Homo sapiens: one gene and its partner. The protein of the gene in region 2 purifies or fractionates together with the protein of the main gene of each other region. This does not show direct contact. Each region holds a gene or a part of one and is shown on either strand. Other genes may lie near its edges.

What was found.
Region 1: the proteins of IDH1 (region 2) and OXCT1 fractionate together in Homo sapiens (co-fractionation; 2 studies listed by BioGRID). This does not show direct contact.

The regions. Positions count from the first base shown.
Region 1 is NC_000005.10:41,867,411-41,875,208, forward strand, and holds the start of OXCT1 (succinyl-CoA:3-ketoacid coenzyme A transferase 1, mitochondrial isoform 3 precursor), read right to left. Parts: upstream 3,016-7,798; 5' UTR 2,949-3,015; coding exon 2,871-2,948; exon of another isoform or gene 2,334-2,870; coding exon of another isoform or gene 2,235-2,333; intron 2,193-2,234; exon of another isoform or gene 1-2,192. UniProt on the Homo sapiens protein: Key enzyme for ketone body catabolism.
Region 2 is NC_000002.12:208,245,050-208,252,072, forward strand, and holds part of IDH1 (isocitrate dehydrogenase [NADP] cytoplasmic), read right to left. Parts: intron 6,519-7,023; 5' UTR 6,503-6,518; coding exon 6,381-6,502; intron 3,612-6,380; coding exon 3,320-3,611; intron 376-3,319; coding exon 270-375; intron 1-269. UniProt on the Homo sapiens protein: Catalyzes the NADP(+)-dependent oxidative decarboxylation of isocitrate (D-threo-isocitrate) to 2-ketoglutarate (2-oxoglutarate), which is required by other enzymes such as the phytanoyl-CoA dioxygenase.

The DNA.
Region 1 (7,798 bases), on a different chromosome or scaffold from region 2:
ACACAATCATAGTATTTAATTGGGGAGCTATAAGGAAGAAACAGTTGCTGAGAAAGAATGCCAGGGACAGCACTGAGGAACATTTCAGAAAGAGGCACACATATGACACTTGGTGATCAATTGGAAGTGCAGCAAGGAGAAGAGAAGATGGTTCCAGGATTTCCAGCTTATATACTGGATGGATACTGGTGCTGTTAAGCACAGTGATAGAAGAACAAAACAAGGAATGGGAAAGCCACTTTATGGCTAGTTTGCTTTGGATCAGAAAGAGCTTTAAGCACCAACTGACATCCAAGTGAAGTTCACCAGTTGCACCAGAAGGACTGCAGCTCAGGAGAGTCAGAGGTTGGAAAGAGATTTGGGAAAAGACAGGGTCAAGGATGAATGGTGGGTAAAGTGTTAGTGGTACTCTTATAACCTTTTTCCCACTAATAATTTTCTATAGTGAAAATAGTATTAAATGCTCCCCACTGCCCCTCAGTAATAATGAAGAAAAGAAGATACCTCCCAATAGTCTATTTTCACCTAAGTCCATGCCAGATAACTCTGAAAGGGGCAGTCAGTCCCCAGACCAGCAGCATCAACATCACCTGGAACTTATCAATGCAAAGTTTAGGGCCCCACCCAGGACCTATTAAATTAGAAATTCTGGGGGTGGGTACAGCAATCTGTTTTAGAAAACCTCCAGGTAATGCTGATGCACTCTCAGGTCTGCGAGACACTGGGCCTGCCCATTATAAAAATGTTAAACATTTAAGAAAATAACTATCTCGTTTTAGCTGTTAGTTATGTTTAGTGGAAAAACTCAAGGTTTCTGTTTGCCTGGAGGGTTCTCTCATCCGTACTTTAAACATGTGTAGAATATCTGATCTATGCAGAGTAGTGTGTTTGTTGAGGGAGACTAAGTGTAAGGCATAAATATGGTCTCTGCCATCGGGGAACTGTCATCTGGTTGAGGAGACAATATACACATCTGAAAAGTTAAACAAGTAGATAAGTGGTACAGTTCAACAGAAGCAGCAGGTGAGGATTTAAAGTGCTAAACAATAAGGGCTGTAATCCCAGCACTTTGGGAGGCCGAGGCGGGCGGATCACGAGGTCAGGAGATCGAGACCATCCCAGCTAAAACGGTGAAACCCCGTCTCTACTAAAAATACAAAAAATTAGCCGGGCGTAGTGGCGGGCGCCTGTAGTCCCAGCTACTTGGGAGGCTGAGGCAGGAGAATGGCGTGAACCCGGGAGGCGGAGCTTGCAGTGAGCCGAGATCCCGCCACTGCACTCCAGCCTGGGCGACAGAGCGAGACTCCGTCTCAAAAAAAAAAAAACAATAAGGGCACTAAGAGCCACAAGCTAGGGGAATAGTGGAAGGCAGGAGTTAGACCTATGATAATCAAGCCTGACAGGGCTAAGTTTGAACTCTGTATGAACTTTTAATGAGATATAGCAGAACCCCTTATTTGCATCTCGTCCCTCTAAGATGAGGTTTGCTGAGCTTCGGAAATGGTTTAATGATATACTCAAGATGGAAAAGACTTGAAGTGAGTAAATTACAGTTGGGCAAATCAGTAACTGTCAAAAGAAGGAACGTTCCTGACCTCGGCCCAAGGGTATCGCTGTGCTCTGGTTTGTATTAGCTTCAGCACCGCTGCAATCTCACTGAAGGTCAAGTTCCCTTTTAATAATGCTTTATATATCCAAGTCTATCTGCAGTTATAAAAATGCTTCCTAAGAGGCATTTAAGAGTAAAATGGTCCAGTTCTGAACCATTCCCTAGCACCTACCGAAGGAGCTCAGTGGCTCCTCTGTGTTCTCAGCGGTCAGGGATTGGATGCAGGAAAGAGCAATGGGGCCAGGCAGGCACGCTTCAGGAGTAAGCACCGTGTGCATGGCACGCTGTCAAGCTCAGACCTATTACTGAATACCAAGGAAGAGGCTCCCGCGATTGAGACGGCGGGGATAAAGCCACCCTCCTGGACCTGGCGCTCTGGTCCTGTAATTCGCTCCTAGGGCTCCAGACAGGGGTGGGCTTACAAGCGAGGACAGTGCATAAGGCAAAACCACAAGTCAGTCCACGGTGGGAATGCCTCCGGATACCACTCGGTGGAGAGTCGGCAGTGGGGCACAAAAAGGATTTCAAAGGGCTCTGAAAACCGAAAGCCCCTAACCCGGATACGAGGGGCCTCGAGAGAAAGGTTTGTCCTCCCCTGCAGCCCAGGCGCGGGCCAGGGACACACCTCGGATGGTTTCCCAGCTTGGCCGGCAAGACGCCCTGGCGAGCGCTCCAGTCTACGGGGCAGCAGAGCCAAATAGGGAGGAGAGGATGGGAGCGGCATTCCACACCCGCCGCACCCGGCATCCAGCCCCGGTGAACTCGAGCAGAGCCATGGCTAACCCAGCCTCAGGTTCTGGGCCTCTAGAGGTTCCTCTGCCCAGAGATCCAACATCGGGGGCGCAAACCTACCCGCTGTTGCCTCACTCCTAAACCTCCATATACTGGCGCCCTCCTCCCCCCGTTCAGACCCTCAGAGTCCCTATCCAAGGGCGGGTGCCAGGAGGGAAGCCGACGAGCGCCAAAGGGCTCGGGAGCGCTGCCAGGAGTCCTCCCGCCCCTTCTCAGCCTCTCCGCGCGCTTCTTTATCGCGTCTCGCTCCATCAGGGAAGCGACTGCAGAACCAAGCAAAGGCGGTCATCCGAGGGGCCGGCGAGGCCAGGAACGCGTCGCCGCGTGTCCGTGACCAGGGCACCGCGCCACGGATGCCAGATCCCAGGCTGGAGAGAGCGGGTAGGGGCAGAGAAGAAAACGCGGGCACCACTCAGGGTTTGGTCCACGTTCTTCCTGCCCATGGCCTTCCTCTTCCCCCGCACTTTACCTTGTACCAGGTTGCCCCAGATCCGCGGGCAGAGGCGCAGAGCCGAAGCCCGGAGGAGAGGAGTTTGAGAGCCGCCATCTTCGGGCGGTGAGGCAGGAGGAGGCTGCGGGTTGGAGCGCGCGTTTGAGCGTCGGTGCGCGACTGCGAAGGAAACCCGGGCGGGCTGGAGGCTCGACAGCGCGTCGATGACGTCCTCCCGGCCTTTCGAGCCGCACGCCACCGGCGCGCTGCTGGCTGCTGCTTTTAAAAGAAGTGAGGCTGGGCGGGGCCCCGGCGGGGAGAAGAGGCTCTGTGCAGCCGGGGCGGATCGCGGGGAAGTTCCTCTCAGCGCCTCAGGTGTCTGGGCGTGTGCAGCTGTGTTGGCGCACACTTGCCGCTACAGCCCTTCTGTCAGCCCTTTAGCTTCGATGGGGCGCTGGTGGCCGCCTCCCCCTAGGTTGTGGATGAGTCTTGGCCTAGGGTTCAGGGCCCTCCGGCCGCGGGAGGATCTCCCGCCAAGCTTGTTGCTTTTCCAAGTTAGTGCCTGGCGTGTGTGTGGGCTGCATAGGGGCACCCCTCGAGGCCCCCTTCTCTTCTCCCGCCTGGACTGCGTTCACGTTTCTAACATTTCTCAGCCCCTTCTCCCCACATCTGGCCTTGGCTTACATAGAGTAAGTTTGCTGTGAGCACTTGCCTCGAACTGTCGGTCAAGAGGTGTGAGCAACAAGGCTTGCAGAGGAACAAGATTAAGACTGGACCTCTGTGACCTGAGTTTAGCACACCTTTTCTTCCCCATCATCCAAGTTTGCGAATTTCGGGCTCTTTCTCGCACTGGAGTCCCAGCAACCCCAGAGATTACTAAAGATGCAACCATAAAAGCAGTATATTGCTTTAACCTTAGGCAAGTTAGATAACTTCCCTAAGCCTCAGTGTCCTCATCTGCAAATTAGGATTGCTTGTGATACAACGTCATAACGTTTCTATGAGTTAATTCATGCAAAGTTTATGGCCTTATTATGAGGAGTCAATAAATGTTAGGCATTATTATAAGTTTATTCCATTGTAGCAGTTCATTGACATGGCACGTACATATTCGCCAAGCCTTGTCTTTTGACCAACTCCTTGAGGACATGAGCCACGACTGATTTCTCCAGAACTGTCTTTGCACTTAGCAGAGTGGAAAGACCAAGTGGAAGCTCAATAGCATTTTATTTGATTAAGGCCTGACCAAGTTCTGAGAATGTGATGTTAGTTTTGAACCAAAGCAAAGCACACAAAAATTAAATGAGATCTTAGCTTCCTTAGCAAATACAGTAAGGTAATGAACAGTGAAGATGCAGTTCAAAGTTTGTCCATAAAATCATTTGCCCTTTCATGGTATTCTTTTAACTCTGAACTTTTTTTTTTCCTGTAAATATTATAATTTTAGTCAAAATCAGTTAAGGAGTAAGATACCAAGTTAGACTATTCAATTACACTGGAGAAATTAACTTATTGCTAGTTGGTATTTCAACACATTTTAAGAAGTTGGATTGGGGGGAAATTCAAGTACTGTAACTAAAGTCCCATAACTAGTGATAATTTAGCATATAGCAGCTGTTGTACCTTTAACTTACACAATGTGAAAAAAACTAGCATTCCAATTGAGTCTGCTTTTCCACTTTTGCCCATTGCGATTGGGTCTGCTTTTCCACTTTTGCCCTTCCACAGGGCACATGAAATGGAAAAACTGCATTGGCAACTTTGCCGGTGGTCATATGACTGACTCTTGGCTGGTCTCACTTTGTTGCTCTTGGCTGAGGAAGACACATTTTAAATGTTGCATGCTATGTGACTAAGTCTCCTGAGAAAATCACCCTAATTACTGTATGGTCAAAACACACTGTACTGTATTTTTGATGACTGTGACTTCATTTTATACTTTTTAAATAATGTGCAAGTCTCTTCAACTTGAATAAATTAGATTACAAATTACAAAAAAAGTTCTTATGTGCTGATTTCACTTCTAGTTACACAAAGGCACTTCAATTTTAATTGGTGTGCAAAATTTTACTTCTTTTAAATATCTGAACTTTTCCGAACTAGTAAGGATATTTCCCACTTGCTTTGAAAGGCAGTTTCTGGCAAATATGTTATATTCTGGAAACCTTTCTTTGTGGAATCTTACAGTTTAACTTCCACACTTTTAAAAACTGGGAGAATTGGATTCAAAGCCTTTAAACAAAAGGTCTGATTCCAGTCATGCAATGAGGAAAGATTTTTTTGTTTGTTTTTTTGTATTTTTTTTTGTTTTTTTGTATTATGTTATGATACGTATGTGTATGTGTGGGTGTGGGTGTACATACACCAAGTCATGTGCTACATAACATTTTGGTCAATAATGGACAGCATATATGATGGTGGTCCCATAAGATTATAATAACATATTTTACTGTAGCTTTTTTATGTTTAGAAATGTTTAGCCATGTGCAGTGGCCCACGCCTGCAATCCCAGCACTTTGGGTGGCCAAGGCAAGTGGATCGCTTGAGCCCAGGAGTTCGAGACCAGCCTAGGCAACATGGTGAAACCCCGTCTCTACAAAAACAGACAAACAAAAAAATTAGCTGGTGTGGTGGAGCACACCTGTAGCCAGCTACTGGGGTGGGGTGGGCAGTGGGGACTGAGTAAGGAGGATTGCTTGAGCCTGGGAGGCAGAGGTTGCAGTGAGCCGAGATTGCTCCTCTGCATGCCAGAGCAAGACTCTGTCTCAAAATAAAAGAAAGAACAGAAAAATTTAAATACACAAATAACTACCATTATGTTACAATTGCCTACTAAATATTGTACAGTAACATGCTGTACAAGTTTGTAGCCTAGGAGCATAAGCCATACCATATAGCCTAGGTGTGTAGTAGGTTAGACCATCCAGGTTTATGTCAGTATATTCTGTATTAGCACAATGACAAAATAGCCTAGCATCTCATTTCTCAGAACCTGTCTTTGTCATTAAGCAAGGCATGACTGTGTGGCACCATTTTATCAGATACATGCAGGTAATGTGTCAGAGTTTATTAGATTGTAAATTATTCTCTGTTTTAAGGAGTTTCATTTTAATTCTCCTAAAATATGATGCATTAGCATATCTCATTAGTGCAAGATATGACATCCTATTCTCACAGTTGATGGTGTACTCCCCAGGATGATAACCAGGGGCATCTGAAGACTTGTTTTTCAAATGTTGATTAACTGGTTTCACTAGAAATAGCAGTTTTTAAGTAGGTCATTTGAGTCACTTATAAAAGTGCATGCGTGCTTCATTTTATCACAATAGTCCTTTAATATATGGAGAACATAGTCCTTCAAACAATTTGCTTCTAGTAGGTTTGAAGGACATAAATCTGAAATTTCACATAAATCTGTAAATCTAAGTATTGTTTTATAGTGCAAGACACCCATTAATTTGCATATTTTGCAAGCTTATTTTCATAGATCCTTTAAAGGAGTCCCTTGTATTAACTAGTGTGTATTTAATATTTGTTCAATGATTAAAGAAAAAATAGATTGATTTTTATAAAGTGTAGTTTTCTCAGAAAAAAAGTAAAATAAATGCATGAGATACTTGGAGAGGGCTTAAGGCCTGGAATGAAATTGAAAATTATGATAAGATACTAAGGAAACCTAAAAGAGTAAAATGCACCAGAGTGATCTTGTATACATTCAAGACTGATCACTTTATTTCTGCTTAAAACCTGTCATTGGTTTTCCCCACTGCCTTTGAGATCCAAAGTTCATACTTAATAACATGACATAGAAGAGGATCATCTCTTCTGGTCTTCCTTTCCCCCACACGTCTGCTTTATATTTCAAACTATATGTGCCTCTTGATTTTTACACAGTGAATTTGCACAACCTCAGAATCAAGTGTTGACAGCAAAATAATAAAGAGCAGGAATTCTGTGGTTAGGCTTCTAGGGTTCAAGTCTCAGCTCTGCAGTCTCTAGCTATACGGCCTTCTGTGGTGCAGTAGTTAAGCAGGGCTTACAGAATGTCAAGATGTAAGGTAATCTCTAGATCAATATTTGCATTATTCAGGTGTTAAAAGATTATACATTATTAATTATTTCCCAGATGCTATCTTAGTCCATTCTTGCTGCTACAACAAAATATCTTAGGCTGGGTAAGTTACAAGAAGAAATGTATTTCTCACAGTTCTGGAGGCTGGAAAGTCCAAGATCAAGGCACCAGCATATTGAATATGTTAAATTAAATTAAATTTGGCCAAAAGCTGCTTCCATACTTTGGAATTCTGCATAGCAAACTGCACCTAAGTTAGTGTTTAAATAAACCTTACTTAAGAGTATGTTCTTGTAACAGATAGCTGAGTCTCAGCTAATTACAGCAGCCAGGTTTCATCCAATCACATACTACCAACTAATAAGACCATGTCCACATAAGGCAAATGCCACATTGCATTGTGCCCAAATAAGGCAAATGCTGGGCCATAATCAATCAAGCTGTTTCTGTACCTCAATTCCTCTTTCTGCCTATAAATACTGCCTGCTCACATTGCTGAGTGGGGCTTTCTGAACCTCTACTGGTTCAGAGTGCTGCCTGATTCATGAATTGTTCTTTGCTCAAATAAACTCTGCTAAAGTTAATTTGTCTAAAGTTTTTCTTTTAACAAGGGTCTGATGAGAGCCTGTTCCTCATAGATTATACCTTCTCTGTGTCCTCACATAATGGAAGGGGCAGAAGACATAAACAGTTCCCTTGTACCTCTTCTATAAGGGCACTAGTCACATTCATGAGCTCTCATGATTTAATCACTCTGAAAAGCCCCATATCTTAATACTATCACACTGGCAATTAAGTGTCAACATATGAATTTGGGGAGGACACATTCAAACCACAGCAGGTGCTTTGGTTACTGAAAACATAAAGTAAACTGAAAAATTTACTTAATAAACTG
Region 2 (7,023 bases):
CTGTGCTTTAAGATAAATGCATAATCATCTCCTTGTCTTTGCCTAAAGGCATTTCCAATTAAGTGGGTAACCCTTTTGTGCCTTTATTCATGCCACAGGAAGGTATGGAAGCAAATTACTTCTTTATGTCAAGTTTCGGGTTTTGCAAAAACACTGTAGATTCAGATTATATTTTTAGGCAGTCACATAACTAACAAAAAAAGCAATAAAAATATTATCTAAATCATTTGTTTAAAAAAAAAAGAAGCTTATGCTACAGTCATACATACCTTCAAAGTTATGTACCAGGTATGTCACCTTTTGGGTTCCGTCACTTGGTGTGTAGGTTATCTCTACTTTTCCAGGCCCAGGAACAACAAAATCAGTTGCTCTGTACTGTGTAGAGGGGAAAAAGGTATAAAGAAAAAAAAAATACCCTAGCAGGAATTGTAAGGAGAATATTCATATAATATAGACCTAGAAGACACCTAGACAAATAGGGCAGTATGTCAAACTTCTTTTTTTTTTTTTTTTTTTAGGAGATGGGGATGAAGAGGTCCAGACATTCCCCTAAATCAGTAAATATTTATTAGGTGCCTATACGAGGTATAGGAAAGTTTTCTGAGCACTGATTTGAAGAGGACAGAGAATAACATAAGCCACTTTCCTTTAGGAAGTTTACAACCCTATAAAGACATATATAAGTGAAAAGCAATATAAGAGCTTTCAAATGCCAAAAGAGGGTATTAGACCCCCCCCCCAAAAAAAAAAAAACTATAGGATGACAGAGGAAAAGAGGTGACCATGGAAGGAAGTCAGGGAAGTCTCCCTAGAGGGTGATGATAACAATACTAATTGTAGTACTGAGGTAGCTAATGCTTTGTCCTTACTCTATGCCAGATGCTTTAAATGCTTAACTTGCATAATCTCATTTGATTCTTACATCAGTCTTACAAGGAGGGAACTATGATATAGTAGAAATAATGCATCCAGGGTCAAAGGACTTGAGGTCTCGTCCTTACTTAGGCCATCGGGGCTCGGTCTCTCATGGTATCATTGTTACTAGTGTTATAGGACTTGTTCATATGGAGCAATCAAATCATTCTGGGAGCAGCTACAATGGGATGATGATGATTTTTAGGAAAGGGCTGTTCAAGGACAGGCACCTCCCTCATGGGCCTCAGCTACTCAGTGGAATAATATGCCTGGCATATACTAGACATCCATAAGTCTTTGCTGCATTGTATCTTCTTCAATGAATTGAATCAGATACTTGCAGAGTTAGGTACCAGCAGGTGCCGGCCACATCTATAAGTGTAGAGAAATACTAATAACAACTGGTAAAAGAGCAGTAAGTAACAATAAAGATTAAACACCTACTTTACACAGAACATTTTTGACATATAAAATCCATAAAGTAAATATGGGTGGTAATTTATTACTATTTCTGAAAAGGGAGAAACTGAGGTACCAAAGCACCATAAATGCTTTGTATAGGTTTATGTATATTTAAACAGTCCATGAATCAACCTGAGGTTTGAAATTCTCTTTCTGGACTTTAATAAATAGAATGGCCATTTTTACAAATGACTGATGCCAAAATAATTAAAAAAAAAAAAAAAAAGAGGAAGGCCGGGCATGGTGGCATGCCTGTAATCCCAGCACTTTGGGAGGCGGAGGCGGAGGCGGGCGGATCACAAGGTCAGGAGTTTGAGACCAGCCTGACCAACATGGTGAAACCCCGTCTCTACTAAAAACACAAAAATTAGCCGGGCATGGTAGCATGTGCCTGTAATCCCAGCTACTCAAGAGGCTGAGGCAGGAGAATTGCTTGAACCCGGGAGGCAGAGGTTGCAGTGAGCCAAGATCACACCACTGCACTCCAGCCTGGGCGACAGAGCGAGACTCTGTCTCAAAAACAAAAAACAAAAAGGATATACGCAGAAAAAAGGCACGACTGAACTGGAAAGAATCTAGGGTGATTTTTACAAGATTAGCGAGTTTGCACCACTGCCATCTACCTTCCCTTGCTTGGGCCCCTGGGAGCTATTTCTGAAGGCTTTGGCCAGGATGAAAGGATAGTTTTAGCCACAGAGTGGAACAAAGTTAACTGACCCCTCAAGGACTAAACTGTTTACCCTCAACACACTGTTTTCAATGATGGCTACATTAAAACCTCTGGATTTCAGCATGAGAGATTCCTGTTTTTAAGGTCCTTTTAAGACATAAACTACTTTCTGTGAAAGTCTGAAACCTCAGTTTCAACACTGAACTTTGATTTTGTTTACTTGGCAGTTTTTTTGCTTAATTTGGCAACAAGTGTACTGGTACAGAAGTAAAGAAGCAATACTTTTTTTCCAGGCAGGAAGGAATGCTTTAGTAAGGCTGCTTTCAACTACCGAGTCAGTTTTTTTTTTCTTTTTCTTTTTCGAGACAGGGTCTTGCTCTGTTGCGTAGGCAGTGGTGTGATCATAGCTCATAGCTGTAACCTTGAACTCCTAGGCTTAAGGGATCCTCAGGCCTCAGCCTTCCAAGTAGCTGGGACTATAGGCACATGCCACCCCACTCAGCTTCGCCTACTCACTTTGTATATGAATAAACAAAACTGGCTCTTCCATGAACAATTGACATAATTATTGAAATACTTTTCATTTTTGTAGAGACAGGGTTCTGCTATGTTGTCCAGGCTAGTCTCAAACTCCTGGCCTCAAGCAGTGCTTCCAAATTGGCCTCCAAAGTGCTAGGATTACAGGTGTGAACCATAGTACCCAGCCAGTTTTTTCTTTTATGCATGATGGGATCATGTTTAATACAATCTTTGGTGGTTCTCAAGTTTGCACATTAGATTCACCTGGGGAGCTTTAAAATGCCTGAACCCCATGGAATTCAGATTTTAATTTGTGTAGGGTGGTACTCAAGCATTGAAACTAAAACAAAGAAACAAATCAAGCAAAGCAAAACAAAACCACCAAAAAAACTTGTAAGGGGATCCTATTGTGCAGCCAGTGTTGAAAACCACAGATCTGGTTGAACCATATGAAATTACCAACATAAAAATGGCAATATCATATGGTATAACTGAATAAAAGGATAAAGGAAAAAAAACAGCATGTTTGAAAAAAAATGTGTTGAGATGGACGCCTATTTGTAAGTTTATTTGTATTTGCCTTTAGCTAAATGTGTGTAAATATACAGTTATACATATATGCATTTCTCAATTTCATACCTTGCTTAATGGGTGTAGATACCAAAAGATAAGAATAAAACACATACAAGTTGGAAATTTCTGGGCCATGAAAAAAAAAACATGCAAAATCACATTATTGCCAACATGACTTACTTGATCCCCATAAGCATGACGACCTATGATGATAGGTTTTACCCATCCACTCACAAGCCGGGGGATATTTTTGCAGATAATGGCTTCTCTGAAGACCGTGCCACCCAGAATATTTCGTATGGTGCCATTTGGTGATTTCCACATTTGTTTCAACTTGAACTCCTCAACCCTCTTCTCATCAGGAGTGATAGTGGCACATTTGACGCCAACATTATGCTTCTTTATAGCTTCTGCAGCATCCTTGGTGACTTGGTCGTTGGTGGCATCACGATTCTCTATGCCTAAATCATAGCTTGAAAGAGAAAAATTAGAAGCAAAGTTTTTCAGACAAATGGATAGTTATAACCTACAACTGCAGTGATGGCATATAGAGCTCATTATGCAGAAAGCGAAGGCTCTGAGTACACCAAAATCTGCCAAGTTTTAGCACTGGCACACCCTAAACACAGAAGATGGGTGCCAACTACAAAGAGAACTAAGAGAGGCTAGACTGCTGGGCTGCCCCTCCTCTTGTAATGGGAAGCTGTCTATCAGGAAAATGAATGGAAACCATCAAACTCTGCCCTTTGCCTCCTGTTTTTCACCAGATAGAGGCAATAATGGCCTGGTTTCTCTCCATATAATTAGTATAATAAGTGTAAGTCTAAGGACCACCTTTTTCCCTTAGTAAATATTGCTCTTTAAAAATAAAAGGGGGTGGGAGGGGTTAAAGGATTTTTTGTATTTTGACGTTGAAGTGGTGGGAGGTAAAGATGTGACAGTTGATGCCAAAAATGCGAATGACTACTTCATTAATGCCAGTTAGTCATAAAATGAGCCTTTCCCTTTTTTTTTTTTTTTTAGATGAGTCTCGTTTTGTTGCCCAGGCTGGAGTGCAGTGGCACGATCTTGGCTCACTCAACCTCTGCCTTCCTGGGTTCAAGTGATTCCCCCGCCTCAGCCTCCCCAGTAGCGGGGACTACAGGCATGCACCACCATGCCCAGCTAATTCCTTCTGTAATTCTTGAGCAAGTGTTTGCTCTGGAAACAAGCCTACAATTTATTGGGTAAGTAAAGGAATCCATCAATGGTTTTCTACATACCAGAGAGTAATAGCTTAATATACACCAACACAAAGATTGCAGGTCATTCAGAGCTGAAAGAATGTTAGTTGTCCAGGGAGCATAGAAAATGACTGCAAAGCTTTATTTGAAGCATGCAATAGTTTGTTAAAAAGCAAGAAAACAAAATAATGTTTTGTTTATTCTGTTCTCCAAGGATTTAAAAGGTTTTTCAGCTCTTAAAACCTGCCTCTAGATTTCTTTTTGGTTCCCTTATCTTCCTTTCTTAGATCTCCTACCCAACTCATGATGCAAACAAAGAGATAGTAATCTTGACATATTTCCAAATAAAAATAACTTCCAACTGCTTCGACTTTAGATAATTCATATAAATCTAACAAAGTCATGTCCTTTGTTATCTTCTTGCATAGGAAATGTTGATCCAATCCCAACTCCAACAGGAAGTATGATCAGTAGTTTTCAAGTTCCTAGGAACCATTTCTCATAAGGAGAATCTATCAGCAAATTATTAGATTTTTTGCTTGTCTTCTTAACATTTCTAAGAAGATAAGAAAGGAAGGAACAAATTGCCCAGACCACTGTCCAGCCTACATAAAACAAACTACCTGCTCCATTCTCCTGAAAAAGAACCAGTCAGTGATAATAATAGGAATTTTGGAAAAATTTAAAACTTGTTTGAGCCTCCAAAAATTATCTAGTCTGCAGCCACCAAATTTTTTCCTCCTAGTCATAGTGACTCCCCTTTAAAACTCCTCATGATTCCACACTAAAGAGGCTCAAAGCATCTTTAGTTGCAGCCATTATAAGGAAAAGAACCCTGCCAGTTCACCTACTGTCATGTAAAGTCCTGAAACAGGAGTTCCTAAGATGCTTTTTTTTTTTAACCTAGTTGGAAGATGTTTTTATGCCTAATTTCTTATGTTTGGTTGACTTCTGCAAGTATTTATATCTTATCATGATTTCAATATAGACATCAGCAGCTTAGGTTTAGAACAATTAAAAAGTATGTTTAATGACATTATGTGAATTAAATGTCTCCACTCAAACAGGTCCTTAGGACAAATTTTGATGACTAATTCTGGGCTGAGGCAAACACACTTAGAGTTGCCAATAGTTTGGCTGAAACGTGTTGCTCAATATTTTTCTATGCCAGTCTTCAGCCACTTTACCCTTTTAAAAATTCTATCTCTACCTAAAGGTACAAAGAACAGAAGCAAGTTTATGAAAAACACAGCGAAAAAAATGAGAGAATTACATAGACTTTTGCATCTGTCCCCAGGCACTTTACACACAGGGCAAAGGGACACAGGATTTAAGGGAATTTTGCTGGAAAGGAGGGGTTCAACTAAGAAACATCATGAATTCTTTCTGCACTACAATTGTATGAAAAGGGCAAAAGGTGAGGCATGAAAAGGAAACAGGTCCATTGACTAAGTAAAGTGATAGAAAATTGAGTTTGAAATGACAAAATTGTGTTAACTGCATTTAGTTTACTGTTTCTTACATCCTCTCTTATTTCCCTTTTCTCAATACATTGTACTATTCTTAGCCACTGTTTTATTACAAATAAAACCTTCACAGGAAACAGAAGGTTAGAAGAATCTGAAAATCATTCTTTCCCTTATAATTCTTGACTTTTAGATGATAAATCCAGTTTTTCTAGCAGTATGTTAAAATTAGAAGATTCATCTGAATATATTTAGGCTTAAAACAAACTTTATTCACAAAACACAGCTATATCTATATAAAAAAAGCTAACTTCACCTCAAAATAATTCAGATTATATTCTTTTTTTTTTTCCTGTTTCTCCTTCCCTTTTTTTTCCTTTTTTTTTTAAAGTGATGGGGTCTCACTCTGTTGCCCAGGCTGGACTTGAATTCCTGGTCTTGAGGGATCCTCCTGCCTCTGCCTCCTAAGTAGCTGGGACTTCACGTGTGCACCACCATGCCCAGCCAGATTATCCTTTCTGAGTTTGCTACACGGAGGGGTAACTCATTTACCTATGTAGATCCAATTCCACGTAGGGAAAAATGAGTTTCTCTTTAATCAATTCCCAAATGATTCGTGTCATTTCATCTCCTTGCATCTCTACCACAGAACCGCCACTGATTTTTTTGGACATTTTGACTTCAATAAACCTAAAAAGAAAAAAAAAATACATGCCTTGTCATTTATTTCATTATAAAGTGAAATATATAAACAACGTAGTGTTTATATAAACAACGTAGTGACTACTAAAAGAACAATTCATGCAATTCAATTTATGTGTAGTTGAATAAAAAGCTAGTAACAGCAATTCTATTTACCATTAGAATTGAGTATCTTCTCTGAACAAAGTATTGTGTTATGTTTCACACGCGGTTTCTGAGCTAGCCCTCATAACAATCCAAAAAAATGGCCATCATTTCCCCATTTTACTTTGTTAAAAAAAAAAGAGCTTTCCCAAGGCCACCTAGCTAGAGCGTGGCAGAGCCTGACCCTATAACGTGCCCTTCATAATGCAATCATTATTCTCAACTACTGGTTTGTCTTAAGAAATGAGATTATTTCCACAATCTCATGTTTATTGAACACTTCAGTCCAACTCATCATTTTACTGGGCTCTCAAGATGTCCAGAATGGTGAGTGCTAGCATTTCTCCTC